Linked DNA regions of Homo sapiens: all the other regions are linked to region 3. The links come from fine-mapping of genetic effects on gene expression. A gene starts in region 3. Each other region holds a variant in brackets. All regions are shown on one strand. Distances are between the middles of the regions.

The links. PIP is the estimated chance that this variant, and not a neighbour inherited with it, causes the effect.
Region 1: its variant is the best candidate, but not a certain one, in a credible set for the expression of LINC00092 in whole blood (TOPMed, PIP 0.59).
Region 2: its variant is the best candidate, but not a certain one, in a credible set for the expression of LINC00092 in subcutaneous fat (GTEx, PIP 0.85).
Region 4: its variant is the best candidate, but not a certain one, in a credible set for the expression of LINC00092 in whole blood (TOPMed, PIP 0.64).
Region 5: its variant is the best candidate, but not a certain one, in a credible set for the expression of LINC00092 in whole blood (INTERVAL, PIP 0.89).

What each region holds. Positions count from the first base shown.
Region 1 is chr9:95,742,637-95,748,859 of GRCh38, forward strand. No RefSeq gene overlaps it. Among named protein-coding and RNA genes, the nearest start is that of ERCC6L2, 130 kb to the right of the region's middle. The variant A/G (reference allele first, on the strand shown) is at 2,922.
Region 2 is chr9:96,150,636-96,156,858 of GRCh38, forward strand. No RefSeq gene overlaps it. Among named protein-coding and RNA genes, the nearest start is that of HSD17B3-AS1, 93 kb to the right of the region's middle. The variant C/T (reference allele first, on the strand shown) is at 3,927.
Region 3 is chr9:96,018,964-96,025,186 of GRCh38, forward strand. It overlaps LINC00092 (long intergenic non-protein coding RNA 92), which reads right to left and starts at 2,848. Exons shown (of 2, transcript NR_024129.2): 1 at 2,622-2,848; 2 at 769-2,318. It overlaps LOC105376159 (a long non-coding RNA gene), which reads right to left. Exons shown (of 2, transcript NR_188619.1): 2 at 4,297-6,223. It also overlaps a transcript of ERCC6L2 not described here. RefSeq lists a silencer at 2,028-2,077 and enhancers at 2,288-2,337, 3,770-4,270.
Region 4 is chr9:95,751,358-95,757,580 of GRCh38, forward strand. No RefSeq gene overlaps it. Among named protein-coding and RNA genes, the nearest start is that of ERCC6L2, 120 kb to the right of the region's middle. The variant A/G (reference allele first, on the strand shown) is at 3,190.
Region 5 is chr9:96,108,942-96,115,164 of GRCh38, forward strand. It overlaps LOC158434 (a long non-coding RNA gene), which reads right to left. Exons shown (of 3, transcript NR_132344.1): 2 at 5,694-5,813; 3 at 1-95. Among named protein-coding and RNA genes, the nearest start is that of LINC00092, 90 kb to the left of the region's middle. The variant C/T (reference allele first, on the strand shown) is at 3,510.

The sequences.
Region 1 (6,223 bases), 280 kb before region 3:
TCAGCACAAAAGAATCCTTGTTGGAATTTTATTGAAATGCTTTACCCCACATTTACTACCATCATACTTTCTTTTAAACTCAGATTTAAAAATTCTGACTTTAAGTCTCAATGTGTTTAAAAATTGCATAATAAAAGTCCTGTGCAAAAGAAAAGAACCTCAAATAAAAGAATAACATAATATAAAAATAAAAGGAATAACTCCAGATCATAGTAAAGATCGGAATTTCTTCTAAGTTTATCACATTCTTAGGGCCATTCCTTATACTCTGTAGTGATAGTAATAGAAACATACAACTTTTTCCTCTTCCTTCCCAAGTTTCAGTCCCAGGATGCTATCCCTGAGACCTCTTATCTGCATTGCCTCAGCCATCCTGTGGTCGCAGTGTTTGCTCCGCATATTCTGCCCCTGCTCACGTCGCCCTTCATCCTGCCCCAGCCAGACATGCTGTCTGTACAGCCCACTGGTTCTGGCAGCCAGGAGTTTCCTAGGACCAGCAGCATCGATTGTGCTCCACTCAGATCAAGGAAAGAGTTCCCCTCAGCTCTTACCTGGCAAATAAGGTATGGATTTCCAGCTATGTTTTTCATTGGCTGGGGTTAGATTCTACTATAATCTAGATGTATCATTTGTGATAGATGAAGATCCCTTATGGGCGGTAACAGAGAAAGTTAAAAGGATGAGCATTTAAGTAAGTAGGACCTAGTACAAGAACATAATATAATCTAAATCTCAGAAAGAAGCTATGATATTTAAGAATTTAGCAATACATCTTAAGTAAAGAATATATAAAGTTTCTTAACAAATGAGGCAGCATTCCAAATGTCTTTGAAATGGCCTCGTGATATATGGTGAACCCAGATATATGTCGCATGTAGTCCAGTTTTTGCAGTCTCATTCCAAGAAAACACATTCAATTTAAGACACTTTCAAGAATGATAGAAATTTTGCTACAGATTTTCTGAAAGAAATTCATCTTTAGAAAACTTCCTGAAGATCTTCTTTGGAAATATTTCTGTTCCCCAAACTTCAGTACTCACAGTAGCTACCAGCTACCTCTCCTTTCTCTCGCCCACGCAGCTTTCTCATGGCATCCCCACTGACTTTCTCCTTCAAATGCTCTGCTTCTTTCTCCTCTGTGCCACAGTGGACAGCAGAATTGTCCCCTAGGACTTCTGTTTCCATTTGCCCCTATGCCAGACCTCTCTAGGATGGCCAGAGCATCTAGAACCACCTCATCTCCCGAGCATCCCTAGCACCCTCTGGGCAAAAGCACATGAGAGCCGCTAGGAAGCAAATCTGTTTCTCACTTCAACAGAAAACTCATGGAGCATTTTGGGGAATAAAATTCTCCACCTTGTTAACAAATCAGTAAGGAAGGATTATTCAGTAATTGATGGCTGACACTACTGGTTAACAATTTGGGAAAAAAAATATTACATTTCCTTCCCCCTGCCTAAATACATCCCAGATGGTCTGAAGAGTTTTACTTAAAATAAAAACCTAAATGAATTAGAAAAATATCAGTGGATATTCATCTAGTCACATAAAAGTCAAGAAAAAAAATCATAAAGACCTTGGCTATAACTTCATAAAAGTATACAATTCTACATGTCATAAAATGCCACATAAAGTTTTAGAAATGAAAAACTAAAGGAATATTTGCAATAGTTGCAACAGATAAATGTTCAATCTCAATTATTTAAACAGCTCTTACAAATCAATATGAAAAAGACAAACGCTTTAACAGGAAAACGGGCAAAACTGTAAATGGGCAATTCAAAGACAAATTTAAAAAGCTAATAAATATTGAAAAATAAGTGTTCAACCTTTGAAGGCCAGGCATACTCTGCCAGAAGAGGGAGGCAACGAGGTCAGTGGCTTATGGCCTCTGTGATGTGTGATGACAAAATCTTCCTGCCTCCATACATTGGATATATTTTTAGTGACAATCGTCATGATTTCATGGACCTGGGAGTTCTATTTTCTTTTTTGTTGTTGTTGTTTTTGTTTTTTCTGAGGCAGTCTGTCTCTGTCACCCAGGCTGGAGTGCAGTGGTGTGATCTTGGCTCAGTGTAACTTCTGCCTCCCAGGTTCAAGTGACTCAAGTGCCTCAGCCTCCTGAGTAGCTGGGATTACAGGCACCTGCCACCACGTCTGGCTAATTTTTGTATTTTTTAGTAGAGACGGGGTTTTGCCATGTTGGCCAGGCTGGTCTTCAACTCCTGACCTCAGGTGATCCTTCCGCCTCGGCCTCCCAAAGTGCTGGGATTACAGGCATGAGCCACCATGCCTGGCCAGTTCTGCTTTCTTTAAATCACTGTACATTGTATACACTCTTAACGGTTACGAAAATATGAAAATCCTTAAACGATCCAGGTGATTTAACAGAATACCTAAGCAACTTGTAGTTAGCGCTAAGCCCATGAACTTGGTAGACAGCAACTTATTTGGCCTTCAGAGCATCTGGTGTGTGAGTGTGAGTGTTTCTCAATAACTAACGTGATTCTGAGGTTTGCATTTATTTGTTCACCCCTCTAGGTGGACAGCCTGACTGTTATTTCCCTTATATCTCATTGTAGGTGGACTGGAACCATTTCTAAAGAGATCAGGAAGTATCAGGGAATGGGATCTATTCAGTCTTTCGGTTACCTGTAAGTTGAAGCTGAAAGTCAGCCTTGCTATCCATGGAACCTGCATCTACATATCCAGGTACTTTTTGCCTACTAAATCCTCTTCTCATTTCATGGAACTCAGCCTATCCCTGGGCTGCCTTTTGAAGCTTCTATTACTGGCTAACACAAGTGGTAGTCAGCCCAACTTTTGATCAATATCTTAGAATATTTTGCCACTGTTCTCAGTAAATGAAGTGATGTTTTCTCTTTTCATTAGCAATGAAAAGATAATCCATGTTGTTTCTA[A/G]TAAAATCGATATTGAAGCTACATACGTGAAAAATATTTATAGCAATTTAGGAAATACATCACATGAAAACATTTTCGCTCTGGTTATAAAAAGGTCTTGAATTGACTTAATGAGGCCAAATATGGAAACCATGCCTTGGGCCTTCAAAAACTTTCTCTGGTCTTGAGAAAGCTCCTTGGCTGTAGTTTGAAACAGGCCTGGGGATTAGTCGAGCTTTCCCCAGGGCTCTGGGCATTACAAGCGAGTGCTGGTGGCAGGTGTCTGCACTTCCATGATTATCATGTTCCATCAGATGCTTTTGCTGTCTCACTGGGAATATGAACTCCCTGGCACTTGCCCTTCTCAATGACACCAGTGGCACCTGCAACTTTACTGGAGAGCTTTCTCTACCTACAAAAACATGCCGAGGTCACACTTGGGAAGTGGAAGTGCCAGGCATTTATCATCTCCTCAGCCAATAATAAAGAGGAATTGGAGGATAAATACCCCAACAGCCTCACCTTGGGTAGGACAACTCAGAGGCACATTTGGTACGGTCTCCTAGAGGTCCCCAGCAGGATTGAACCCCATATCCTGAACAGCGATCTGTTGACTGTAGGCGGCCCTCTCCCCATAGTCTTCACTTACCCCCTCTCCTGCTAGTGGTTCCTGAGATTAGTTCACAAATGAGCTTCTTGCACATGAACCTGTGTCTCAAAATCAGCTTCTGGGGGAACCCAACCTACTGCAATGTTGCTTAATAGTTGTTGTTTTTAATTTTATTGACACCATTGTCCATTGCAACCCATGTGATGTCCCTTAGGTTAGTCTGAGTCTCTTGGTCTGTCTAACATACCACTGACATTAGGTTCCATGTCAGCGAGTATACCTAGCCATTTATTATAGGTCCAGGCAGCTACCAGAGCTGAATTAGGTGAATAGGAAAAAGAATACCCAACCCTCACTACTACAACAGGACTATGATATGATCTCACTGAACTCTTGATCCTCTGCCCCAACCCCCCCGAAAAAATCCTGCTCCTCCTAGAGCTTCCCCCATCTGAGTAAACAGCAACCCCCAGCATCCAACTGTACAAGCTACACCCTTGGCCTTCTGCGTGACCCTTTTCTGGCTCTCACATATTTTACTGGACTTATCAGTGAATCCTGATGTCTCTGCCATCAAAATACAGATGCTCCCCAATTTACAATGGGATTATGTCCCAGCAATCCCATCATAAATTGAAAACATCATTAAGTCAAAAAATTATGTATTATACCTAACCTACCAAACATCAGAGCTTAGCCTGGCCTGCCTTAAACATGCTCAGAACACTTAGGTTAGCCTGCAGTTGGGCAGAGTCATCTAACACAAAGCCTTTATTGTTTTTTTTTTTTTTTACAATAAAGTGTCGACTGTCTCATGCAATTTGTTAAGTACTGTACTGGAGGTGGAAAACAAAAGGGCTGTATAGGGCCTGACATCCACAGCTGAAATCACAAAGGGCCTGAAGGATATGGGACACATTGAACTACAGTTAATTGGATGATGGGGATGCTACTGTGACAGGGTCATCCATGTCTGTCTTCTGATGAGCCTCAACAATACCTGGTAGCAGGCCCTGGGGCATCCACACTTGTCCATGGCTTGGCCGGCATGGACTTCTTCAGGAAGATCTCTAGTCTTGGTCAGGTTTAAAATGTAAAATAGCGAGACAGAGTACAAACTGTGAGGGGTAATATCTTTTCATTAAGCGTAGACTTTACTTCATTCATGAAATATTTTACTGAACGGGAGTCATATCTTTCAGTTGAAATGATTTTTCTGCTTTAGTAAATTACATGAGATATTCAACACTTGGTTATAAAGTGATGGTGATCGTGGTTGCGTGGCCGACTGGGAGCTGAGGCCCACTGCTGCACCCAGCGTCTCGAGTGTCATACTGCATATCGCTAGTCCAGGAAAAGATCAGAATTCAAAATGTGTACTGTGATTTCAACTGAATGTGTATCTGTTTTGCACCATTGTAAAGTTAAAAAAAATCATAAATCAAGCCATCGTTAGTCGGGAACCATCTGTATATCCAAAATACAACCACTTTTCATGGCCTCCTCTTCTATTCTTTGGTCCAAGCCAGGATCCTCTCACCTGGACTATTGCAAGAGCCCCCTGTTGATCTCCCTGCTCCCACCCTCATCCCTCTATGGTCTAATCAGTGGTTGGTAAACTTCCTCTGTAAAGAGCCAGATATTTCAGGTTGGTGCAATTATTTTCGCACCAACATAATAGTATGTATTTCAGGCTTTGCTAGCCTTATGGTTTCTGTTGCAGTTACCCAGCTTTGCCCTCACAGCACATAGACAGCCACAGAAAATAAATAAGCAAATGGACATTGAAGTTTGAATTTCACGTCGTTTTCATGTACCACAAAGTATTACTCTGTTTTGACTTCTTATCAACTATTTAAAAATGTAAGAAACACTTTTGGCTGGGTGAGGGGGCTCACTCCTATAATCCCAGCACTTTGAGAGGCTGAGGTGGGTGGACTGCTTGAATCTAGGAGTTCGAGAACAGCCTGGGCAACATAGGGAGACCCATCTCTACAAAAAATACAAAAAAACTAGCCAAGTGTGGTGGTGCACGCCTGTAGCCCCAGCTACTCGGGGGACGCTAAGGTGGGAGGATCACCTAAACCCGGGGAGGAGATTGTGCCACTGTACTCCAGCCTGGGCAACAGAGTGAGACCCTGTCTCAAAAAAACAAACTCCAAAACTCACTTTTCTCTCCAAAACCCACTCTTTTGTTCAGGCTGCACAAAATCAGGCTGAGGGCCAGATTTGGCCCACAGACTGTATTTTGCCTGCATCCGCCGGTCTAATACCTAGAGACAGTCCAGTCCTCCTAACACCTGCAGGACAATGGCATTCCTCCATAACCAACCTTCCCATCGCTGCTCACCTCCCTCAGCTTAGCAAGAAGAGTCCTCCAGGGCTCCTGTTTGCCACTTCCCTGCTCTGCTGGTCTCCACAGCACTTAACACCTCCGACCCTACTGTCTGTTTTACCTGTTTATTGCCAGAGTCCTCACACCCCAAATTAGAATGGAAGTTCCATAAGGCAAGAGATTTTATGCCCCCAAATCCCAGAACAGTGTCTTTAAGCACCCCCTGAAGAACTGTCAAATGAATGAATGAGTGGATGGATGAGTGAGTCCTTCCCATCCTTCTGCGATAGTTGAGCACAAACTGCGGCATGTCTCACTAGAAACACCCTGCAAGTGTTCCATCGAGCTAATTAGCTTTCCATTGTAGTTGAAACTTAT
Region 2 (6,223 bases), 130 kb after region 3:
AGGAAAGCTGACTCACATGCTACATTTACTTCTTACACGGTAACCCACCGTGGCACCCGTCCCATTGATCTGCTTCAGGCACCAGCATCTTCTGCGGAATCTGGTGCTGACTAAGCTAGCTACCAAAGCATATTGTACGGCCCCACTGGTTTCTTGGAAATGGACTTTTGTTTCCACTGCAGATCTGAAAACAGTGACCACAGGAGCACCCTGCCCGGTGACGGTGCTGAGAGGTCACTGTTATCACACTATAAATATTAAGCTTTAAAATGTCACTGCTGGGTACAAACCTCTGGTCTGATAGAGGAAATAAGACCTGCTGTTTGATAGATCAGTAGGGTGACTACAGTCCACAATAATCTAGATACATTTCCATATAGCTAGAAGAGACTAATTCAAATGTTTCTGGCATCAAGGAAAAATACATATTTAAGGCATGGATATTCCAAGTACACTGATTCGATCTGTATGAATTACACAAATATATAAAATTACCACTTGTATCCCTAAAATATGCATGTCTTATGCATCAATTTAAAAACAAAAAATCAGATACAATTTTAACTACTAAAGTTCTTAAATGAAAACTGAAACATGATTTAAATTCTTAAATAAGGCCAGGTGCAGTGGCTCAAGGCTGTAATCCCTACCCTTTGGGAGGCCCAGGGTGGATCACTAGGTCAGGAGTTCGAGACCAGGCTGGCCAACATGGTGAAATCCCATTTCTACTAAAATACAAAAATTAGCTGGACATGGTGGTGCACGCCTGTAATCCCAGCTACTCTTGAGGCTGAGGCAGGAGACTCGCTTGAACCAGGGAGGCGGGGGCTGCAGTGAGCCAAGATCATGCCACTGCACTCCAGCCTAGGCAACAGGGCAACACTCTGTCTAAAAAAACAAAACAAAACAAAACAAAAAAATTCTTAAATGAAATTTCAGATGTATCCATGAAACCCAGAAGTTCTAAGCTGGCAATATTTGTCTTTGGTCAAATATCAGTTTACACACTTGTACATTCGACATTGGGTCACACTGTGTATTTTGAGCACACGTCTGAGAAGAATATTTATTCCCAAAGCATGGTCAGAGCACAGCAGGCACTCCAGTAGGGTGCTCAGTGGTATTTGCTGAACAAATGATTCCATCAGCCAATCCTATATTGCTGAGCATTTAAGTTGTTTGCAATCTTTGGTCTTATACAGTATCTTGCAATGAGCTTTCTTAATTAGAAAGCAACCCTATTTAATAATCCCCTTGAAAAATGTTTTAAGTGGTAGAATTATGGCATCAAAAGGTCTGAACGTTTTTGTGGTTTTTTATACCTATTATTGTGTCTTCCAGAAAATCCTAGTTATATAATCAGCAATGAATTAATGTTTTTCCCCACACTCTTGTCAGACCCTGGGTATTTTTTCAAAGGTCTCTGCCAATGTCATAGGGAAACACTGTATCTTCTTTTTATCATTTTGCATTTCTTTGGTTTGTGAATAAATAACAAAAATTGCACAGGGTCATAATGACCATTCATCACTAATTCTTCAGTTGAGCCCCTGGTGAAGTAATTGGGCTGCAGGTAAGAGGCACGAGGTATGAACCATACCGAACTTTAAAGTTTAGAGTGACACTTGGCACGGTGAGACCCTCACACTATAAGGGATGGGAACTGAGATTCTCAGGAGCTTTAAAGTTTAGAGCCACACCGCCGGGCGCGGTGGCTCATGCCTGTAATCCCAGCATTTTGGGAGGCCGAGGCAGGCAAATCACGAGATCAGGAGATCGAGACCATCCTGGCCAACATGGTGAAACTCCGTCTCTACTAAAATACGAAAAATTAGCCAGGCGTGGTGGCTTGCGCCTATAGTCCCAGCTACTCGCTTGAACCTGGAGGCGGAGGTTGCAGTGAGCCAAGATGGTGTCATTGCACTCCAGCCTGGTGACAGAGCAAGACTCTGTCTCAAAAACAAAACAAAACAAACAAAACTTTAGAATCACACTTGGCATGGTGAAACTCTCACACTATGAGGGGTGGGAATTGAGATTCTCAGGGGCTTTAAAGTTTAGAATAACACTTGGCATGGTGAGACTCTCACACTATGAGTGGGAGGGAACTGAGATTCTCAGGAGCTTTGAAGTTTAGAAGCACACCTGGAATGGTGAGACCCTCACACTATGAGGGGGTGGGAACCAAGATTCTTTGGGGAACAGCAGCTGCTCAGTCCCCACATACAAGTTTGTTGAGTGCAAGATGAATAAACACAGAGACTTTCAAGTTGCCTTGATTGAACGGGACAGGTAAACACGTGGGAACTGCCCACGTTTTTGACTTTGTCTCTTCCCTAGCTCTTCCCTTGCCCACTATGGAGAGTCAAATTTGCAAGCTGTGACCATACCCCTGATGTGACTGATCTGTGACACTCACAGAGCTGCCGCTGGGGGTCATGGATACCATGCTTCTCCATTTGTTCTTTGACACAGTCTTGCCGGGTAGGCAACAACTCTGTGCCGCACAGGCCCGAGGTCCAAGGCTAGAGAGTGGCAGCACTGGAATCCACATCCCGCTCTGCCTGATGCTAAACTTCCACTCTCTTATTTCCCATGCCACGTGGTGTGCTCATATCGAGGCTCAGTGCCTGGCTATTCCTGTGGCCTTTCACCTACCTTGGCCATAATGAAAAGCCCATGCTTCTCTCCAACCTGGGTTCCAAAACAGCTGCTGAAACTAATTAATTTTTTTTTTTTTGAGACGGAGTCTCACTCTGTCTCCCAGGCTGGAGTGCAGTGGCACCATCTTGACTCACTGCAACCTCCACCCCCTGGGTTCAAGTGATTCTCCTGCCTCAGCCTCCCAAGTAGCTGGGATTACAGGCGCCTACCACCGCACCCTGTTACTTTTTGTATTTTTAGTAGAGAAGGGGTTTCACCGTCTTTGCCAGGCTGGTCTTGAACTCCTGACCTCATGATCCACCTGCCTCGGCCTCCCAAAGTGCTGAGATTACAGGCCTGAGCCACCGCACCCGGCCTAATTAATTATTTTTATAACTGTCACAGAACACCTGATTTTCCCCCCTCCTCCCCACTGTTGTAGGGCAGAGAAGAACAGGTGGGGTGGTCAGGGAATAAAGGAGGAATTCGAATTCTTAGTCCGAGGAATCACAGCACATTTTTTTTTTTTTTTTTTTGTGACAGGGTCTCGCTCTGTCACCCAGGCTGGCGTGCAGTGGCGCGATTTCGGCTCACTGCAAGCTCCGCCTCCTGGGTTCATGCCATTCTCCTGCCCCAGCCTCCCGAGTAGCTGGGACTACAGGTGCCCGCCACCATGCCCAGCTAATTTTTTGTATTTTTTTTAGTAGAGACGGGTTTCACCGTGTTAGCCAGGAGGGTCTCGATCTCCTGACCTCGTGATCCACCGCCTTGGCCTCCCAAAGGGCTGGGATTACAGGCGTGAGCCACTGCGCCCGGCCCTCACAGCGCATTTCCAAGGCAAACACTCAAGCTGCTGGTTCTCAGGCTCTCCTTTGGCTTTAGCTTTGCCGTGTCTCCCTTACCAAGGTTCCCAGCCACCACCAAGGGAGGTGCCACAGCCACGTGTCGTGGCAGAGCCTGGCCCAAGCTATATGTTCCTGTTCCCACTTGAAAACGTTTGAAAGCGTGAAACCATTTCTTCTTGCCCGGTGGGACTCTTCCTGACTCCAGAACAGACTCGGCCCCTTGGGTTAGTGTCCCTGTGATGTCGATCCTTCTGTGGGGATCTTTGGCATGCACCAGAACCTTGCAATTCGAGTCACTGTCATTGAAAAGCTCTGGTCTACAGACTGAAGGACAGCCTGCCTCACCAGCTCTACACGAGAATTCCCATCTTCCAGGGATAAGAAAGTGAGCAGGCCTTGTCCAATCTCCAGTGAGTAATACAACAAGACAGAGATTAA[C/T]TTTATATACTAATTTCTTAGGTTAGATAGAGAGGAAAAGGACACTCCACACCTGATGACCTGCATTCTAATGCCAGAAAAGGCACTTTTAATCAGATGACCTCAGAAAATGTCCTTAACATTCCAGGACAGTTATTCTTGTGAGGATGACCTAGAATAGATGTGTCCGGGCCCATGAAAATTATGAAACCTCGGCTGCGCGCAGTGGGTCACACCTGCGATCACAGCACTTTGGGAGGCCGAGGCAGGTGGATCACGAGGTCAAGAAATCGAGACCATCCTGGCCAACATGGTGAAACCATGCCTCTACTAAAAAATACAAAAATTAGCTGGGTGTGGTGGCACACACCTGTAGTCCCAGCTACTCAGGAGGCTGAGGCAGGAACATCGCTCAAACCCAGGTGTCTGAGGTAGCAGTGAGCCGAGATCACGCCACTGTACTCCAGCCTGGCGACAGAGGGAGACTCCGTCTCAAAAAAAAAAAGAAAGAAAGAAAGAAAGAAAGAAAGAAAGAAAGAAAGAAAGAAAGAAAGAAAAGCAAAAGAAAAAAATTTTTTTTTTGAGACGGAGTCTCGCTCTGTCACCCAGGCTAGAGTGCAGTGGCACGATCTCGGCTCACTGCAAGCTCCGCCTCCCGGGTTCACGCCATTCTCCTGCCTCAGCCTCCCGAATAGCTGGGACTACAGGCGCCTGCCACCGTGCCTGGCTAATTTTTTTTTGTATTTTTAGTAGTGACGGGGTTTCACCGTGTTAGCCAGGATGGTCTCAATCTCCTGACCTCGTGATCCGACCGCCTCGGCCTCCCAAAGTGCTGGGATTACAGGCTTGAGCCACCGCGCCCGGCTAAGAAAAAGAAAATTCTGAAACCTCATTCAAGTGCAAGTTATGGACAGGCTCAATGGCTCACCCCTAAGATCACAGCACTTTAGGGGGCCAAGCAAGGCAGGAGGATTCCTTGAGAGCCCAGAAGTTCAAGACAAACCTGGGGAACATAGAGAGGCCCCATCTTTACAAAAATTTAAGAATAAAAAATTAGCCAGGCATGGTGGTACATGCCTGTAGTCCTAGCTACTCTGGAGGCTGAGGCAGGAGGATCCTTGAGCCCAAGAGTCCAGGGCTGGAGTGAGCTATAGTTGTGCCACTGTGCTCCAGCCTGGGCAACACAGTGAGACCCTGATCCAAAATAAAAACAAATGCAAGTTATAGATTAGTGTTACTCATAATAGCACTTTTCACCATCTAACATACTGTATATTTGACTTATTTATTCTGTTTCTTTTCCTACCCCCACAACTTTCCAACCTTCCCACTCATTACCAATGTAGCCTATAAAATTTTATTCTCTGGAGAACTTTGAGAGAAGGACAGGTAGGTCTCTGTCAAACCAGGCTAGTGATGATACTACCTGGAGGACAAGGGTAGAACCAAGGAACTCTAATCGTTACTTTGAGTCCTAATTCTGTGATTTCAGTCTCTCTACTCAGGGTCAGTCCCAGGGTAACAGGCTAGTCACAATGTTGAGATCAGCGTTCTGAGGCTGACTTCCTTTAAAAATGTATAAAACTCTGCTCCAGAATACTAAAACACTTATTACAGCCTGAGCCCCTCCTCACCTGCCTTGAGAAAAACATTGCATTTATTGAACATAGATTAAGCTACAGGCTGCTCCACATCCATGAGGCCCCGAGTCTGCCCAGGACTTTCCTAAACTGCCTTCAACTTGACGGTTCTGCCAGCCTTTCCAGGATGGGGTGACTAGCCACCCCCAGAATCCAGGCCAGCAACATTTAGTCAGCATTCAGCTTGTACATTCTGTCCCCTCCTTCCTCCCTCTGGGAGAACATATGGTGAGAGCTGCTTTCTTTGGAGCAAATCCTTAAGGAAAAACAGACTTTTCATCTTTTTTTTTTCTTAAGTTCCAGTAAACCCTTTTACTGATTTCTAGGGAAATCACTTTAGAGCTTAATTGTGCATTTCCCATCAGAGTCATCACTTCTGTTACTGGAGAAAATGCAACCCACAAGAGGTTTTTGAGGCGGCAGGGAGTGTGGGCTGGGTGCGCAGGTGCATGTATGTGCATATGCATGTGCACAGATGTGTATGCACACACCAACGTACACAGTGCACCTACCCATCACTGAAAGCACTGCTCATGAATAGTCCATTTCCTCTTCCAGAATTGGCCAAATCACGCCATTGTTGACAGCCCAGCTAGGCAGCGCCTGATGACATTTTTGGCCCTGGAAATGACAGGTGTTGATGACCCTAGCCTTCCTCTGGGCCTCTGATGCTAAGAG
Region 3 (6,223 bases):
TAGGCCTCGCAGTCTCGTTGAAAGAAATAACTAAAACTCACTTTATGTTGTTTCAGTTTATCTGGCAGGGGGAAAAATGCGTGTGCAGCTCTGAATTTCTAATACGTCTCTAAGGAAACTCCAATGAGTTGTCTTGTCAGACTAAAATGTCTGGCAACTAAAATTATTGGCCTCCCTACATTTTTTAACTTTGAATTTTCTTAATTTTTTTGTAAAGTGGGATATGTTTCTGAACTGAAAGAAACTTCAAAAGAAGCCTCATAATAGCTAATTCATATTTTCTCTTCTTTCCTAAAACTATTATAAAAGCACTAATGGGAACAAAACAATTATTTTTCAAAATATAAATGCCAGGATGCACCATATGAGAAGCCCCCAGCCCCCTCTGCTTGCCTCCCAGCACCCGCATTGTGCTCCAGTGTTCAGCTTTCTCTTCCTCTCCGTCCACCACTCCCTGCCCTCTCTTCCCACTGCCAGTACCTAAGTGGCCTTCCTTCACCTGTGCCTGGCAAAGCCCTAGGTTCCTTCCATGTCACCCCTGACTCCTGAATCGACAGCTCCCTCTCTCAGCTTCCTGCTCACCAAGCTCAATGGAGCCTCAATGACCTGCCCACTGTTGCCTGAGGCAGCACTCTCACTGTCCCAAGACCCCATCACACCTTCACCTTGCTGGGACCTCCTAACTCCCTCAGCTTCCCCTACTCCACATTGGGGGTGTATCAGTCCATTCTCACGCTGCTATGAAGAAATACCCGAGAAATACCTGGGTTAATTTATAAAGCAGTTTAATTGGCTCACAGTTCCTTATAGCTGGGGAGGCCTCAGGAAGCTTACAATCATGGAGGCAGTTCACGTGAAGGGGGAAGAAAGGCACCTTTCTCACAGGGTGGTGAGAGAGAGGAAGGGGGACGGGGAAAGCCCTTTATAAAAGCATCAGATCGGCTGGGCACAGTGGCTCACGCGTGTAATCCCAGCACTTTGGGAGGCCGAGGCAGGCAGATCACAAGGTCAGGAGTTCCAGACCAGCCTAACCAACATGGTGAAACCCTTTCTCTACTAAAAATACACATTAGCCGGGCGTGATGGCGCGCACCTGTAATCCCAGCTACTCGGGAGGCTGAGGCAGGAGAATCTCTTGAACCCGGGAGGCAGAGGTTGCAGTGAACCAAGATCGCGCCACTGCACTCCAGCCTGAGTGACAGAGTGATACTCCGTTAAAAAAAAAAATCTTGTGAACTCACTGTCACGAGAGCAGCGTTCAGGAAACCACCTCCATGATTCAATTACCTCCACCTGGTCCCGCCCATGACACGTGGGGATTATTAAAATTCAAGGTGAGATTTGGGTGGGGAAACAGAGCCAAACCATATCAGGGGGCCAGGCCTTCAGCAGGTGGATAAGATGGGAGGAGTTCTGAAATACACACCCGGGATGCTCCAGAGGCCAAATCATAGGGCAGGTCATCCCAAGGACAGCAGTTAATTCACTGACATGCCAGCAAAGGGCAAACCGAATCGGCCCCGCGGAGCCCAGGTAGGGGCGCCGCTCACCTCCTAAAATGCCCTCAAAGACCCCTTAGGGCACAGCCATATGCTGAGACATGTTGGGGTGGACAAGCAGGTCTCAAGAAGCTTAGAATGTCCCCTAGGTGGACGCTAAGGGACAAGGCCCACCGAGGAAGGCAGCTGCAGATGATGGAATGCCCTCCCAATGGCGGGAACAAGCAAGGCTTCCGCAGCTCAAAAGGAGAAACATGCTTTGCGCTGGAGTCCTCAGAAAAGGCCACTTCCAAACTGTGGGGATGGGGAGTGGACGGGCCTAAGAGAATGGGAAGGCAGAACACCCCTTCTCCAGTCTCCCTTGGCCGTTAAAACCCCAGAGCAGCAGCAACGTGGGCTGTTTGGTGCGGAGGTTCCTGGTTTGGGTTGGCCAGGCGTAGAGTGCTTCCGACAATTCACCCACCCTCCAAGACGCGCGGGCCGGGGAGCGGGGAGAGGGCGGAGGGAACGGCGCACCGGGCCCCGTCGGACTGTTGGACCAAAAGTCCTCAGTGTCGGGGGCTCGCAGCGCCGCCGCGGCGAACCCAGCTAGGGGGCACCGCCTGCGCCGGGCACAGGGAGGCCGTTCGGCTTTCCCCCTCGCGCCCATTACTCTCAGGCGTCCCGGGGAACCCCGCGGGCCAAGTGTCGGGCTGCGTCCGGGCAGAGGCGGCTTCGCCTGGTGTCAGCGCGTTTCCGAAGGGCACCCGCGGCGGGGCCCACAACTCGAGCTGGGAGCCGCCCCAAGCAACCCGTTCCTCCGAATCAGGCTGCTTTTCTCTGTAAAGAAAAGAGAAAGCAAGCGATTAACTGATGGCTTGGCCGGCTGGAAACGGGAAAGCGAGTTCTCCAGGAGCCGCACACCTCGGGGAAGCCCAGTCCCTCCCGGGCAGGGAGCGAGGGGCGGTCCTGGGGGCTGCTTCCCGCGGGGAGAGAAGGGAGGGCGGCGCAGCCCTCTGCGGGGTCCGCCCCTCGGTTCTCCGGACCCCCGCGGCCTGGGGGACACGGGGCAAATTCTCGGATAGCGACGGGCAGGAAGGGGACCCGGGCTGGCGATGGGCCGAGTGCCTCCTTTGCTCTCACCCCCGCGCGAAGACGAGGCCAGTGGGCGGGTGGCGTGGGGCGAGGCCTCCGCAGGCCGCCGGGGGCCCAGGCACCTGGAGCCGGGAGGGTCCGCTCCCTTCCCCGCCCTGGATGGCGGCCTATGGGAAAGCAGTCTCCACTGGATCCCGCGCGCGTCGCGCCGAGGTCGTGGGAAACCGAGGGCGGGAGGGCGGGAGGGCGGAGGCGCCGGCAGGGTCGGCGGGACTGGGGCTCGGACGGAGGACAGGGGCGAGGAGGAGGCAGGAAGGACGCCGGGTACTGCGGGGCGCCTAGGGGGTTCCGAGCGCAGCGGCTGCGGGGCCGACCCGCCCAGGATGGAATCAGGGCCCCGGCGCCCCCACGCCGCTCCTCCAGGCCGAACCCCTGCGGCCCCAATCCCCCGGCCTCACGCCCACCCCGCAGGTCGGCCCTGCAGCTGCCTTCCCTTCCTCCACCTCCCTCCCGCCTCCGAAGCCGGCGCCCCCGGCCAAGTGGCCGCTCTCAACCTGTTACCAAGTCCTAGAGAGAATTTCTCCAAAATATTTCCTGGATCCCCCTGCCAAGGGCCCTGTCCCGCCCTTCCAGCTCCCAACTGGATGCCTGCAGACCTCTCCCCGGGTTCCGAGGCTCTGGCCTCCTCCCTCCCTAATCCATTTTCCACACCGCTTCCCCGGGAGCCCGTTAAAATACACCGGGACCGCGGCGGGTGCAAGCCTCCTGTATCTCCACATAGCAGGCTAAGGGGAATTGGGTAGGGAATAAAGGCTGCAGGGGACATCGGCTGGCAGGTATGAAGCCCGTATTGTGTGTCGTTTGTTAAACACTTCCAGTGGATTTTCTCGTTTAATCTGCCCAACAACGCTTCTGGGCCGGTATTCGTATTGTTTTATAGAGGGAGAAACTGAGGCACAGAGGGGCACTCGGCTTGTAAGCAACGGAGTAATTCAGAGCCCGTCAGCCCCACGCCGAGTTTATTCACCCTGGCAGGGGCTTCCGCGGGAGCCATGACCCTTCCTAACTGGGGTGGAAGGACCCGCAGCGCCAGCCGGGTCCGGGCCAGACGGCAGCGAGTGTCTGTTAATAGGGATGCTGAATGGGTCAGGCAGTGGGGCACAGGTTCAGTGTGATCTGGAATGCCTGCGAGGCCCCCTTGCTCATCCACCTGCCTTTAATGGATGGGTGGTCTGAGTTTCTGGAGATGGGCAAGATGGAGCAGTCTCCACACTTGGCTCTTCAGCCCCGGCGCCCCCCACAGCCGCCTCTGCTTTCCTGGAGATACCGCAGGCTCCTAACCTCAGGCCGGCTTGTGCTGCTCCACCCTCTCCCTCCCCCACAGACACAGGCCACTTAGCGCGCTCTCCCGTCCCTCACCCCTGCCAACAGCAGCCACTTCTGGCCACTTCCTTTACATGTGAATGAGTCCAGGTCTGGGCTGCCTTTGTCCGGGGAGGCCGGTGGGATTTCCATCAATAATTGTTGGTTGGTGAGTCAGGGGTCAGCAGTGGTCTCCTTTCCAGGACCCAGAAATGACACCACAAGGGTAACTGGCCACTATTTCCTGCCTAGGAACTAGCAGCATCCCACCCCCACCACTCCATGGCCTAGATAAGACAGGCCAAGACCCCAGAGACAACAGGACTCTGGAACAGGGAAGGGATTTATGATTAGCATAGGCTCTAGTTAAATTCCTTTTTTTATTTCTGTGCATTGACCTATTATGTAATATGCTTTTTTCTTCCTGGAATACAGATCCTACCAGTGGTTTTATTCCTTTTTTATATAATGTTTAATTCATCTGTCTCTGTAAATCCATCACATGAAATTGAAAGGGTCTCAAAGAGCAGACTGTTTCCCCCCTAACTCTTCCACTATTCAACCCAGGGGCAAGCACTGTCATCCCTCACTGCTACCAGCTTCTGGTCAGTCTTTCTGGCCACACGTATGTAGACATGCTTCATTCTTTTAACTGTGTTTTTGATGTTTTCTATATTAACACCAAAAAAAAGTACACTAAGAAATCAGTGCTATTTCCGAATGGAGCCCGGAGTTTCTCAGCACTGCGCTCCTCCAGTGCCAGAAGCACCCTACTTCTCTTCCTCAGTTGCTTCATCAATCACATGGGGCTGGGGCAGTGAGGAGGATGTATTTGCCTCACATAGAGACTTAAAGGTTTTCCTGATCTCCTCTGGGTACAGAACAAGAAATTAAGGATGATCTGAAATATACAGGGCTTGGATAAGACTTGAAACAATTGTGATGATAGGAATTGCTGGGTTCTGGAACCGAGGATTGCAGTAACCAGGGGCTCAGAAAGCTGAGATATCCCTCCAGTGAAAGGGGACCCGGGAGCATAACTGAACAAAAGTCATTTCTCTTCCTCATGATGGGTATTTCTCTTTTTCTGGTGAGAAGTGTCAGTATCAGCATTTATCTGCTGGAGACTGTTTAAATGTTAGGTGTACTTAGCAACGTTGCATCTATTTTTCTTAAACACGAATCACTTTCCAGAAGGGAACCGAAATGACCACCTCTAAAAGTTGCTACTAACTATTGCTCCAGAAACCAAAGTGATGCCACTCACATGGCTGGCCATAGTCTAATTTCTTCACAAACAGAGGCAGAGCAGCTTGCACCACGTAACCCCAAAGCTTTTCTGTAACTGATCAGAAGTTCCTTTCTCCACCCTTTAGCAGAGGTGCTGGTGACCAGGGAAGAGGAGAAGGTAAAGAGCAGAGTGAATGAAGGGAAGTAGGGGACATAGATTCTTTAAAGTCTGGGTAATCAATCCCAATGTATTCAAGAGAGACCTCAACTTGCTTTCCTAGATGGGACGTGGTGGCCCACGGCATCCATAGCAAACCACTCTCTTCTTGGATAGTTGGCTCCCAGACTTGAAGGCTGTGCTCCTTGCTGTCCTCGGACCTCTCCAGCGGTCTCTTTCTAGTTTCCTTGGTGGGCTCCGCCTCCTCCTCCTCACCTTGTCCCTTGGATTTCCCAGGGAGCTATCCCCAATCTAGGGTTAGTCTCATGCACCCACCATATTCTAGGGGCCCCTCCACTCACTCTCATGCTTTTAATGAATTCATTTATGGGTGATCAGGAATCTTCACCATAGCCCAATCACCCTTCTGAGTTTCAGGTGCACACCCTGTTGCTTTGGTGTGACTGCTTCCCGTTGGGTTATCCTTGGGCACCTCACACTCATTGTGTCCAAAGCAGAATTCTTCATCCTCAACTCTGCACTCATCCTATATTTGAGACTCCTAACTCAGTTAATCGCATTGCTTCAGTCATTGACCTCATAACCCAAATCTCAGCACCATCTTTTTTTATTTGGTTGGATGCTTCCATTCCTCTCAGCCACTGTATTCACTCAGTAACCAAGACTTCCAGAGTTGACCTCATAAATATTTCCTTAACTCTGATGCCTTCTTTCCAGTTTCCTACCAGTGTCCTAGTTCCTGAACCACTGGAATAGCTTCAAGTCTTTCACTTCTTAGGTCTTCTAGAGAAATTTGTCATATCTAGTAGAACTCTTTTGTTGAAAATGACGCAGACTGGTTTAAGCAAAAAAGCAAAATCATGGATGTCAGGCTGGTTTC
Region 4 (6,223 bases), 270 kb before region 3:
AGAGGGAGGGGAGGGAGGAGAGGGATAGAGCCTGAGCTGTGGGAGAGAGAGGATGCAGGGACAGAGCCTGAGCTGCCTGATGGAGGGGGAGGGCAGGGATGGAGCCTGAACGCGGGAGGGAGGGAGGGGAAGGATGGAGCCTGAGCTGCAGGAGGGAGGGAGGGGAGGGATGGGGCCTGAGCTGTGGGAGGGAGGGAGGGGAGGGATGGAGCCTGAGCTGTGGAAGGGAGGGAGGGAGGGGAGGGATGGAGTCTGAGCTGCAAGAGGGAGGATGGGAGGGAGGGATGGAGCCTGAGCTGCATGAGGGAGGGAGGGAGGGAGGAGAGGGATGGAGCCTGAGCTGCGGAAGGGAAGGAAGGAGGGGAGGGATGGAGCCTGAGCTGCGGGAGGTAGGGAGGGAGGAAGGGAGGGAGGGGAGGGATGGAGCCTGAGCTGCAGGAGGGAGGGAGGGGAGGGATGGGGCCTGAGCCACAGGAGGGAGGATGGGAGGGAGGGAGGGAGCCTGAGCTGCGGGAGAGAGGGGAGCGATGGAGCCTGAGCTGCGAGAGGGAGGGAGGGGAGGGATGGGGCCTGAGCTGCAGGAGGGAGGGAGAAGAGGGATGCGGGGAGGGAGGGAGCCTGAGCTCCGGGAGGGAGGGAGGGAGGGAGGGCGCAGTGCGCCTTCGCACAGCCAGGTAGCAGGGAAGGGGCCGCATTAAACATTGAAAAATGCGACTAACTTGTTCATCCTGTGCCAAAGACATCACCCCCTTCTCAGATGCGTGGGGCACGTCACGCACGATCTGCCCCCCCTCCCGCTGCCCTCTCAGTGTCCCGTCCTCTTACAGACGGGAGCCTCCCGGCGCGGGTTGGGAGCGAGCAGGGAGAGTGGCGCCAGCGCAGGAGGTCCCCAGGCCGGGTCCTCCTCACACCCAGGCGAGGGGAGCGCAGGAGCGACCTGCGGGGGCCCCGGGAGGCAGAGCGGCGCCTCCGGGGAGAAGGTCCCGCAGAGCTGTGGGGGGGCAGGGGACTGCCCGGGAGGAGCCCAGCGAGGCGGAGACCAGCAGGACCGACCCAGGGAGCTCAGTGGGGGCGGCCAGGTCAGCCCGCGGGGGCTGCCATAGAGGCCTCAAAAGGAGGGCCCTCAGCGGGTGGGGGGGTCAGGCCCTGCCAAGGACTGTCTTCCCGACCTTCAAGCAAGACACCCCGGGGCAGGGACTGCCAGGCGCGGGGGGTCAGGCCAAGTCTAGTGACTCCTTCGTGCCCCTCTCTGGTGTGGCGGAGAAGAAAGAAGGAGGGAAGCAGCCAGAAACAGCGCGGAGCGGGACTGGGTCCCACCTGGAGACCCTCGGAGCTAATTTCCGCTCAGGAGGAGGCAGGGGCAGCGGCTCCTGCCCTGAAATCTTGCTTCGGCCGCTGGGCCACCGCCAGCAAGTCCCTCACCCAGGACAACTGCGAGCATTGAAAGGGAGGATGCACCTGCCGCCCCCAGGCAATGGCTACATAGTAGCCGTTATTATTATTTTGAGTTTGGGATTTAAAAAACCCATTCCATAATTATCCAAATACATACCATCTTTTCAACTCAGTTTTGGATTCAGGGAGTGGGGAATGATTTGTAGTCAGAGAACCTTCGGGAGAGTGCTTTGGAAACAGTCTTGGGCCAGGCCCAGGCCCTGCATTTGTAAAATGGAGATAATATCAGGACCTACCTCCTATATATTTGCTGCGACTAAGGAAAATAATGCAGATTTTAGCACAGTGCCTTTCACATAGAAAGTGCTCAAAAATACTAGCCGCATTATAGCTAATCACAGCATCATCACCATAGTCTTTTAAAAATTTTTCACCGTGAAGTTATTATTTAAAAATCTTTTTCAAATTTTATGATCATTGATTACCATTTCCCCCCCACCCTATGAGATAAATTAATCAGGATTTTATTGGCTGATGAAAAATGTTTACCACCGGTCTATTCTGCGTAGCTTTACTAGACTGTTCTAGTGTTGTCAAACCTCTACTGTCCTATTCGGATACTTCAGGACGTTGTTTTTTAGTTAATGTATATATAGACTCTCAACACCCTGGCTCTTAACTGGGGTTGATTTTACTACCCAGGCAATATCTGGAGACATTTCTGTCACAACTGGAGAGGGGGTTGCTAATGGCATCTTGTAGGTGATGGCCGGGATGATGTTAAATCTAAAACGCACAGTACAGCCCACCACAAGAGAGACTAGCCCAAAATGTCAATAGTGGCGAGATGGAGAAACTGCCCTGACATCTCTTTCTCCTGCGGTCTCTCCTAAAGAAACGCCAAGGGAACCAAGGTCTGATGTCTCTGTGGTCCATTGCATTGGGAACTATTTCTGAGAAAAGCAAGTTGTGGGGACCTGCAAAGCTGTTTTTAGCACAGAACAAAATCACAGAGGACCAAAGCCCTAGAAACCCTGCCTCCTTCCCACTGGGCGTATCCCTCTGGCTTCCGTCTCCTGGCAGGGTTTGTGCAAAGCCGCAGCTAGAGCAACATTTTGTTATAATCAAACCTCCAAAAGAATCCGTGGAGCACTGTGGCCCATCTGCAAAGGCCAGAAGGGGGAAGGGATTGTGTTTGGGGGCTGATTATGCTGACCTTTCAACCCTTCTTGGCAATGTTTGCTGGCCAGAAAGCAAAGCCAGCTGTAACTTGGACAGTGCTTTACACAAACAGACAACACAGACTGTTATCTCCTAAATTGGAGGCTTTCTGCAATGTCTTCTCATGTGGGCACTGGGCTCAGGCAGGAAGACCACCCACAGGCAAACACACAGCACCTCCCAGGGAGGCCTGGAATCACCCACCGCTCTCACCACCTGTTCTGGGGCCTAGCTATCAGATGGGAAGGAGCCAGTTAATAACTGTTTATAAGCTATAAATGGAAGTGGCCATGGCAGGGAGCTGATAAACATTTGGGGGCCAATTATTTGTGTAGCTGACTGTCATTTGCACCCGCTCTCAACTGCTTGCAGTATGTGTTTCAGGTTACAGGACGTCCAAATGGCTGTTTGTGGGGAGGGGTGTCTACTGAAGGGCTGTGTCTGTGGTCTTGATCCAGACCACAGATAATGAGAGCTGCCTTGGACATTTTCAGCCTTCCTAGGCATCAGATCTTTCTCCTTAACTCTGCTTAGGGGTCAAAAGAAAATTCTAAAGGTAGGAGGCCCTAAAGT[A/G]TTTCATGTACTTTGGAATCTCAAATCTCCGTTTTGTTGGAAATGTATGGACAGAGTGTTCGGCTCTGAGCTGTTTAAAGTGAGCTTTTATGTGCTGCACTTGTTAGTTTATAATGTGACGTGTTTTTTCCTGTGAAAAAGAAGGTGAGTATAGGGATGCTACATTTAAACCATCAACTGACAGCCTGAGGCTACTGCAGATCCAGAACTGTGATTGCGGGGGCTGGCAGAAGCAGCATGTCGGGAACTCAATGTGGTGGCGATTGAATTGCCTTATGACCTTGGGTTGGCAGCTATTGGATTAAAAGGCTCAAAGGAGAAATTTGGAAATGAAAATCATGTGCGGAACAGGGGATAAGGACCTTGACATTTAAATAACAAAAGTGACACCACACTGGTTCTCTCACCTGGTTAGTGCGGAGCGGGCAGGGGCAGCTGGTCCGGCCCTGCGTCCCAGTGTGAAGGAATTTCTGCCTTTGTCTTCCCAGGGAAGCCAAAGCTTGGAACTGGGTACAACCAGTTTCTAGTGCCTCTGAGTGTCTAGTGCTGGGTCCGGGGATCACTAATTTCAGGCAGTGTCTGGGTGTAGGAATTGGCTGCAGGCAGGGGCCTACAGGAGTCCAGTTCCAGATTCACTGCGCTCCTACTAGGTTATGTGATCTTCACCAAGAATCTGAAATTCTCTGTTGCCCACGTCCTTATTTGACACCAGGGATGTTTATGGCTCAAGGCACTGCTGGAAGCTACAGAATTTTGGCATACAAACCACCCTCAGGGGATTCATGCTTGCCCCGGAGATAAACCTTATCTCTGACAAGATTATCTACTAGTCAAGGCCACATAGGAAAAGCCAGCAGTGCTACAGGGAATAAACGGTGCCAGGGTTTAGTCAAGGGAGGGACGGGGGTCTGGAGAGAGCATGAAGGCTTCAAGGAGGAGATTTGACTTGAGAAAGGCCACCTTGAATGGTAACCTGCAGGTGAACAGCATGGCCAGGTGCTCAGCAGCAGGTGTTCACAGTGGCTTTCCAAGGGACAATCCATTTACCTGTCCTAAAGGAACAGGAAGGAGTTGTGCACGTTAACCTTGGGGAGGCAGGTTGTGATCAGATTGTGAGGGGCTTGAGTCCTCGGTGAGGAGCTCAGTCTCTCCCTTGTCATGTCTTATGAGGAAGTACTGGAAAGCAGTGATTCCAGGCAGGTGGGTCTGGTGAAAAGGTAAGATGCTCAAGATAGAGACTGCTGCTGATCCAGGCATAAGGGTGGGCAGCTCAGAGGCAGCTGGACTACACAGCGGGGTCCTGGGGGACTGCAGAGATCCTAGAGAAAGAGCCAAGGGACTCAGTGAGGAGAATCAGCAGGACCAGGCCCAACCCTGAGCAACTGGGAAGGCACAGCACCTTCCACAGAAGCTAGCAAGGCCTGAATAATGAAAGGAAGGCTTCGTTTCATACACCTTGAATTTGGGGCAAAACATTCCAATAGAAATGCCCAGTTAGAAGTTGGAAAGGCAGAACTGGAGTTGAAAAGTGTTTCTGCTTCTCTGTGCCCCTACTAGATTGCTAGCACTTCAAGGGCAACAGGAATGTCCCAGGATGGGATGAGCATTAGAGCGGGCATCAATCATAAAATACATCATTAGCTATCACTTTCCGAAGGCTTGCTCTTGTTAAGCCACAGGCCTGCAACAGCAGGATTACGATAGCTGTTATGCCCAATTTTCAGGTCCAGAAACTGAGGTTCAGAGAAGTTAGGAAATTTATCCAAGATCACACAGCTTCTAAGTGGTTGAATTGGGATTTGAATTCAGGTCTAGCTGTTGCTAAAGGCCATGACTTTCCCTTTCTCCCTCACATCCTCTCTTGGCCTTTTAATGCAGGAATTCTTTCATACTGAACTTTTGCTTCTCTAGAACTTACACAATGTCTTGGGTCAGGTTTTTGATATGTGTGTTTTATTAATCCTTTTTTCTGCTACCAAATTTCTTACAAACAAATATCCAGATTTTATTAGCCAACTATTTTAAAAAGTAAAACAAAAACAACAACAAAAATCTTTGCCTCTTTTTCTTAAAAGTATGCAAATTCAAGACATCAAATTCATCATTCTTTATCAAGTTAAAAAATTACACTGTGTTTTATTTGGCAAAGCAAAGGGAATTTCTGAAAGACAAGAGACAATATAAATTTACTCCTTGTCTTTATTAGGAAGTATTTATCTAGAAGTTTTTGTTAACAGAACCGTTTGGAAAAACTTTTCACATTTTCTGAAAGCAAAACTTCTGGGCCTCTCTTCGATGTAGCTCTCAGGCCAAATTAATCCTTATACATGTAAAAACATTATTTACATATTTGGGAAGGAAAACACACAGATTATGCAAGGTCTCAAAGTAGCTAAAAGTCAGAATTTAAAGTTAGTATTTACCGCTTCTATTCTTAAACTCATGCCAGAGCCAAGCTACATCCCATATAGTTTCAGGGGAAAATGCAATCAGAAACCTAGCTATGGCGATTTTTACAGCGTTGAAGTTTTTGCCAAATTTGGGTTCTGAAAGGAATTTCCCTACAGGGCCTTTTGGCAGAGACCTTGCATTTTTTTCAGCTTTCCCCAGGAGTCCTTAGCTGGGATCCTCTATTGTATAATCTGTTTCCTTCAACCATTCCTGCTCTCCTCTTTACTCTGAATCATGGGCACATGACGTAGTATTGGAGGAGAAAGCAGCTCTGAGAGGATATTATGACATGTCTCTCCTTTGACTACATGTTCCTTCCTCCACAGCCAATTGACAGGAGAGAAAGGGACGATCTCTATTCATTTACTGGAGAATTAGCATTTTCTGTCAATGCACCTTGCTCTTTTACCCAAGGAATTTCTGTTCACCAGAGAAAAACCCTAGACAAGGGGTCAATAGTTGGCTTGATGAAACCGCTGGCTCTGTATGAATGATCTTTTTCTCCCATGAGCCCAATCATAAAGGTCAATATGTCCACAGATGTCTGAAACAAATTAAGTTAAGCTGTAAGGAAATAGAGAGA
Region 5 (6,223 bases), 90 kb after region 3:
GAAACTGGGAGAGACAAAGAAGAGTTCTCTCCAACAGACTTCAGAGAGAGTATGGCACTGCTGACATCTTGATTTCACACTTGTGGCCTCCAGAACTGTAAAATGGTAGATTTTTATTGTTGTAAGCCACCCAGCTTGTGACACTTTGTTATGGCAGCCCTAAAAAACGAATACAGGGGCCATTTGGTAGCATCGTCTGGTGGGTGGCTGGCTTGAAAGGAGTTTCCAGAAAGCCATCTGGAAGGGTCACCCCCATTCTGTTTCCCATTTAACATCGTTCCTTCTCCTTTTTTGTTGCACAATCTGGTTCTATGGGGAGATTACATTTCCATAAACTACTTTATCAGTTACTTCTTGAATTTGGGGAATTCTTGGTTTCTAAAAACTTCTTTTTTAAAATACATTTTAACTACCATACACAAAAATGTACAATAACCCCATCTCACTGTTTAACAAGGCAATAATTAGTCCCCAAGTTGGCATATCTTCCAAGTCCCTTATTCGAATTCTCTTTGCTTTGGTGACTGGGTTACTGCCCTATAAAACAGCCCAGCAGTGCTAAGAGCTGCAGGGTGGGGGCCAGCCAGAAGTCAGATTAACCAACACCTTTTTCCCCCATATTTGGCATATTTTTATTCTTGGCAACAGTATATAAAACACACCGTTTGCAACATTTATATTTTTCCTAACACCTAATAATTTACTCTTTTATGGTGTAAAATCTGTTGCTACAGACCTTTTTTCAATTTATTTCTCACATCTCTGTGTCTCTCTATAATATGACTAATCCCAAGACCCAGTGAAATTTAAGGTGCCTGCACCGATGCACATAATGGTGATGAGAAAGTTTCCGATCAAAGGCAGTGATGGAGTGTCTTAAACAACTAACAATAGCTGCTGCAGCTTAAAGACATCTCCGAATGCTACTTGGAAGTGATGATTATATAATGCTGAGCACTCAAAGGTCTGAGGAAACTCTGACTCATTTTGCACTGCTAAGGATGTTGGACTGCAAGAAGAAGTATAAGAAAAAAAGGGGGGGAGGGGAGAAGGGAGGGGAGGATGCCCCCAAAGATTGACTATTTAGAAGACCATTCGCACTTCTGCTCCATATCTGCTGTACTTCTCTTTTGTTATTTTGTTTTTTGGTTTTTTTGTTTGTTTGTTGTTTTTGGAGACAGGGCTTCACTCCATTGCCCAGGCAAGAGTACAGTGATGCAATCACAGCTGACTGCATCTTCAACTTCCCAGGCTCAAGTGATCCTCCCGCCTCAGCCTCCTTAGTAGCTGGGACCACAGGCACATGCCACCACACCTGGATAATTTTTTAAAGATTTTTTTTGCAGAGACAGGGTCTCGTCATGTTGCCCAGCCTGTTCTCCAACTCCTGGCCTCAAGTGATCCTCCTGCCTCGGCTTCCCAAAGTGCTGGGATTACAGGTGTGAGCAACCGTGCCCACCTCTCCTGTACTTCTTAGGGGAATGGGCAACATGCACACAAGGAAAAATGACGTCCAAAGAAAAGGCAAAACCTGACAGTAAAATGAGTGCTCTAGATGCCCAAGAGTGACATCCAAAGAAAAGGCAAAACCTGACAGTGAAATGAGTGCTCTAGACGCCCAAGAGCGACGTCCAAAGAAAAGGCAAAACCTGACAGTGAAATGAGTGCTGTAGATGCCCAAGAGCATGCAAGGTGCTCACACACCGTGCAAGGTGTGTGAGACTCTGTGTGTGTGTACTTCACTGTATGTTGTCTGTGTGTGTTTATCACTAGCATTTGAGCATGGCTAGAAGGCGCAGAGTCTTCTCATCCAACTTCTTTCTCAGGATCACCACCCTGGCTTTCCCTACCCCTTCCTTTTCCACCTAGTCTGTGGCAACATAGAGCACCCCTTAGTTAGTAACCTATCAGACTCTCCCTCAGTGCCATTCAGCCACCAATTTTGGTCCTATGACTTACAAATCTAAGAAAACATGTTCTAATATGTCTCCATGGGACTTGCATGGCTTTGATTTGTAAAAATTATCGTTTGTGTTTCCTTGGGCATGCATCCAGAACCGGGACACCCTGCCAGGGGTAAGATTTCCACTTCCCATTATTCTTCCACCGTGTCCCTCTTCTGTTAGAGTCTTGGAGGCCTAAACCCATAATGGGTTGAAATTCTCCTCTGATTCCTAAAAGGCTAAGAACAACCTGGAATATTTTGTAGATAACATGGAAGAAAGACCTTGACTATTTTGTAGATAATATGGAAGCTTAGTTTTTGTTTTGTTTTGTTTTTTAATTATCTGGCAATGGTGGACAAGACTGATTAAAGTGAGAAGAAGAAACTGGAGGCAGACAGAAGAATGTGGAGGAGCCTGTGGCTGTAACCGGAGCAGGGAGCAGGAACAGCACGAACGAAGTCAGCCTGTGGAAGCAGAAAGTGAGGGGAATTCTGCACAGAGACAACCGTCAAGTCTGTGCCTGCTGGACATTGGGAGCCACAGAGAGGCAGGAGCAGGCGACAGCGTGGAGCTGCGAGCCTGGCCAGCAGAAAGCGAATTGAAAAATGTTCCTAAAGGTGACATAAGCTTGCATTTGAAAAGCACCTCCGAAAGCTTCCCAGCCTCAAAGCCAGAATCGCCTTCTGATGCAGTTAGGCACCACAAGAGCTTCCCCACAAGAGCTTAGTGTCCGTTTCAGCAGTGTCCATTTCTTAGCCACAAGAGCTAAGCATGTGTTTCAAAGCCCTGGAGGGATGTAAGCAGCACAATCGGGTGACTCTAAGGTCAGCCCTTTGGGAACCAGGAAAGACACCCACGTATTTGTTTCTTTGGCAGCAGCCTCTCTCCCCAGGTTCTGGGTAAGCGCCATAGCAGAAGCTCAGGGCACCCTGACTTCTCGATGTGGAGAAGGTGTCCACCTCTTCTCCCAGACATGTCTTGAGCAGACAGACAAGGCCCCCTGTTTCACAAAGTGGATTTCATGGCAGTGACATAAATAAAGAGCCTGAGGATGGGATTGTGCTACTTGCCAAACTTCAGTCCTGTCTCTTTGCTGCGCGTGATAATCTGCCCTTCCTGCTAGACCTGCTTAGGTCAGACTTGGAAGTGAGAAATGAATGGAGAACGCCCGTTTCCCAGCCACCTCGCGCTCCTGCCTTTTTTGCCCACCTTCTGTCCTGGATTCCTTTCCCTTCTCTAGATTCAAGAATCAAGAGTTGATTCAGGTCCCAGTGAAAATAACGCAGGGAGAAGCAGGCAGTCACTGTGAACTGGCTGAAATAATTGACCAGGAATTTGCATTTGGGCACAGGCTCTCTTTGGGATCTCCATCTTGTACGGTTCTCTACCCTACCCACACCCTGCACCACTGGACTGGCCTAGAAGTTCTTTTCTTAGTCGTGCTACATGTCATCAAAACTGAACAAAGGAGTAAGACACTGGGGAAAATACCTCTTTGTTGCCTCCCGGCACCCCCTTCCTCATCTGACCAAAATGTTACCTTTACCTGCCAATGTTGGTCAG[C/T]CAGACACCTGAATGGGAATTTAAGTATGAAATTCAGAGCCTTCTGATTAAACCAGTAAAGTCTAAACAAGTCACAGACTCAAAAGACAGCTAAGCTCTCCACCGTGCCAGCCGAGTAGGCAACATGGGAGGTGGCCACTCAAATGAATGTGCCTCACCTATGCCAGACTAGACAATGCCTTGAACACCAGCATCCCAGGGGAATAATAGGCCCTTGGTACATACATAGTCAGCCTTAAAAATGAACTTTCCCTGCCGGACAATGGTGGCTCACACCTGTAATCCCAGCACTTTGGGATTTGCGAAAGCAGGAGGATCACTTGAGGCCAGGAGTTGACAAGCCTGGGCAATATAGAGAGACCTTGTCTCTATAAAAAAAAAATTAAAAATTATAAAATTATAAATTATTTTTAAAAATGATTACGTTTTCCACTGCCAGTTAAATGAAATGCTTAGCCTTACCTGTTTCCTTTCCCTTCTTAAAATGCAAGTGCCTTTAGGAAAATGACTACTTATCTAAATCTTTCTCACTTTAGTGTGAAATAATTTGTTAGATAACTTTCCAATATGATTGCCAGCCAAGAACAGGCCCCAAGAGGACAAGGCAGAGGACAAGGAGATTGACTGCAAGCAGGGAAACAAGCATAGATGACAGTGAGGTCATCCTACAGAACCTGCTGCCTGGGACGCCACCAATGGCACTCTCAGTGGACACTCACACCATCATTGGTCCTTGCTGCCCTCCGCTGGGAGCCTGTCTCCACTGTCACCTCCATGAGTTCTCTATGTCACTTCTTCAGGAGCCCACCATCTGAATGGGAGGACCTGGCAGAACTGGCTCCACTTCCTGTCCCCACTTCCAGAAGACAGGTGGTTAGAAGATTCATCTGCACACAGTGGGAAACAGGGCCAGACCCCCGCAGATCTTGGCATTTCCTCCAAAGAGACAGGCTGCCCAGTGTGGCTGCAAAACACAGCAAATGTCCCCTAGAGTAGGTAAAATTGGAGAACGTATTAGAGTCCTTGGGCCTCAGGCATATTAAATCTTTTTACATGGCTGGGCGAGGTGACTCATGCTTATAATCCCAGCACTTCAGGAGGCCAAGGCAGGAGGATCTCTTAAGCCCAGAAGTTTGAGATCAGCCTGGGCAACATACAAAAGATGAAAAAATTAGCTGGGCATGGTGGCACACACCTGTAATCCCAGCTCCTTCAGAGGCTGAGATCAGTTGAGCCTGGGAAGTCGAGGCTGCAGTGAGCTGTGATCGCACACTGCACTCACTCCAGCCTGGGTGACAGAGGGAGGCCCTGTCTAAAATAAATAAATAAATCTATCTTTTTACTTGTTAGTTCATTTAATTTGCACAGCTCTGGGGAGAGTTCATTACCTCCAGCTTTATGGATCTCCAAGACTAAAGAGATGGAGTAACTTGCTCAAGGTCCCACAGTTAGAAGGCCATGAACAGAGATTCCAGGGTGTAGCTGGTGGCTCCAAAGCCCATGCCCTTCCCAGCCAGCTTCCCCTGGCATCTGAGGGGTGGCCTGGGCATCAGGTGTCTGTCTATAGAGGAGGGTCTTGGAGACGGTGTCTTAGTGGGTGATGGTTGCCATAACAAACTACCACAGCCTGGGTGGCTGCCGCAGAACTTATTTTCTCACATGCCTGGAGCTTTGCCGAGATCAAGGTGTTGGCAGGATTGATTTTTTTCTGATGCCTGTCTCCTTGACTGGCAGAGGGCCGTCTTCTCCCTGTGTCTTTGCATGGTCTTTCCTCTGCACATGTCTGCGTCCTAGTTCCCTTTTCTTACAAGGACATCCATCATATTGGATCAGGACCCACCCTAATGACCTCATTAACATAATTGCCTCTTTAAAGGCCTTATCTCCAAATACAGTCTTATTCTGAAGTACTAAAGGGTTAGGATTTGTTTTTGTCTTTGTTTTTGTTTTTGTTTTGAGACAGAGTCTCACTCTGTCACCCAGCCTGGAATGCGGTGGCACAATCACAGCTCATTGTAGCCTCCAACTCCTGGGCTCGAGCAATCCTCCTGCCTCAGCCTCCTGAGTAGCTGGGACTACAGGCATCCACCACCATGCCTGGCTAATTTCTTTTATTGTGGACATGGGGTCTCACTGTGTTGCCCAGGCTGGTCTTGAACCCCTGGCCTCAAGCAATCCTCTCACCTCTCAAAGTGCAGGGATGACAGATGTGAGCCATCACACCAGGACTTTAACGCAGGAATCAGGAGCAGCTGGAGGACAATTCATCCCGAAACGGAAGGGACACCAGTCAGGGAATTATTTCTGACAGGAGATGATAGGGAGAGCAGTGATGAGGCCCAAACAGATAAGCCCTGCGCCCCCACTTCCCAGGTCTGATGAATGATGCCCCACCTGCCTTCACCTTCATCCAGACTACTGCTGGTTTAGTCTTTATTTTCAGCCTCGTTAACCCCAAGGCAAGGGTGTCATTTTTCGATTCTCAATGTAACTTCTCTGCTCCGGGTTAAATTATCCTTCAATCAATGGTGTTTTTGCCCATTTTGCATAGCAAGATTCCGTGTAGTTCTGGCCTCTAAACTGCCAGACCTATGCTGGGACACCCATGCATGAAGGCCTGCTATCAACTGAATTGCATCCTCCCTAAACTCATATGTTGACACCCTAACCCCCAAAGTGATGGTGTTTGGGAGATAATCAGGTTTAGATTTGAA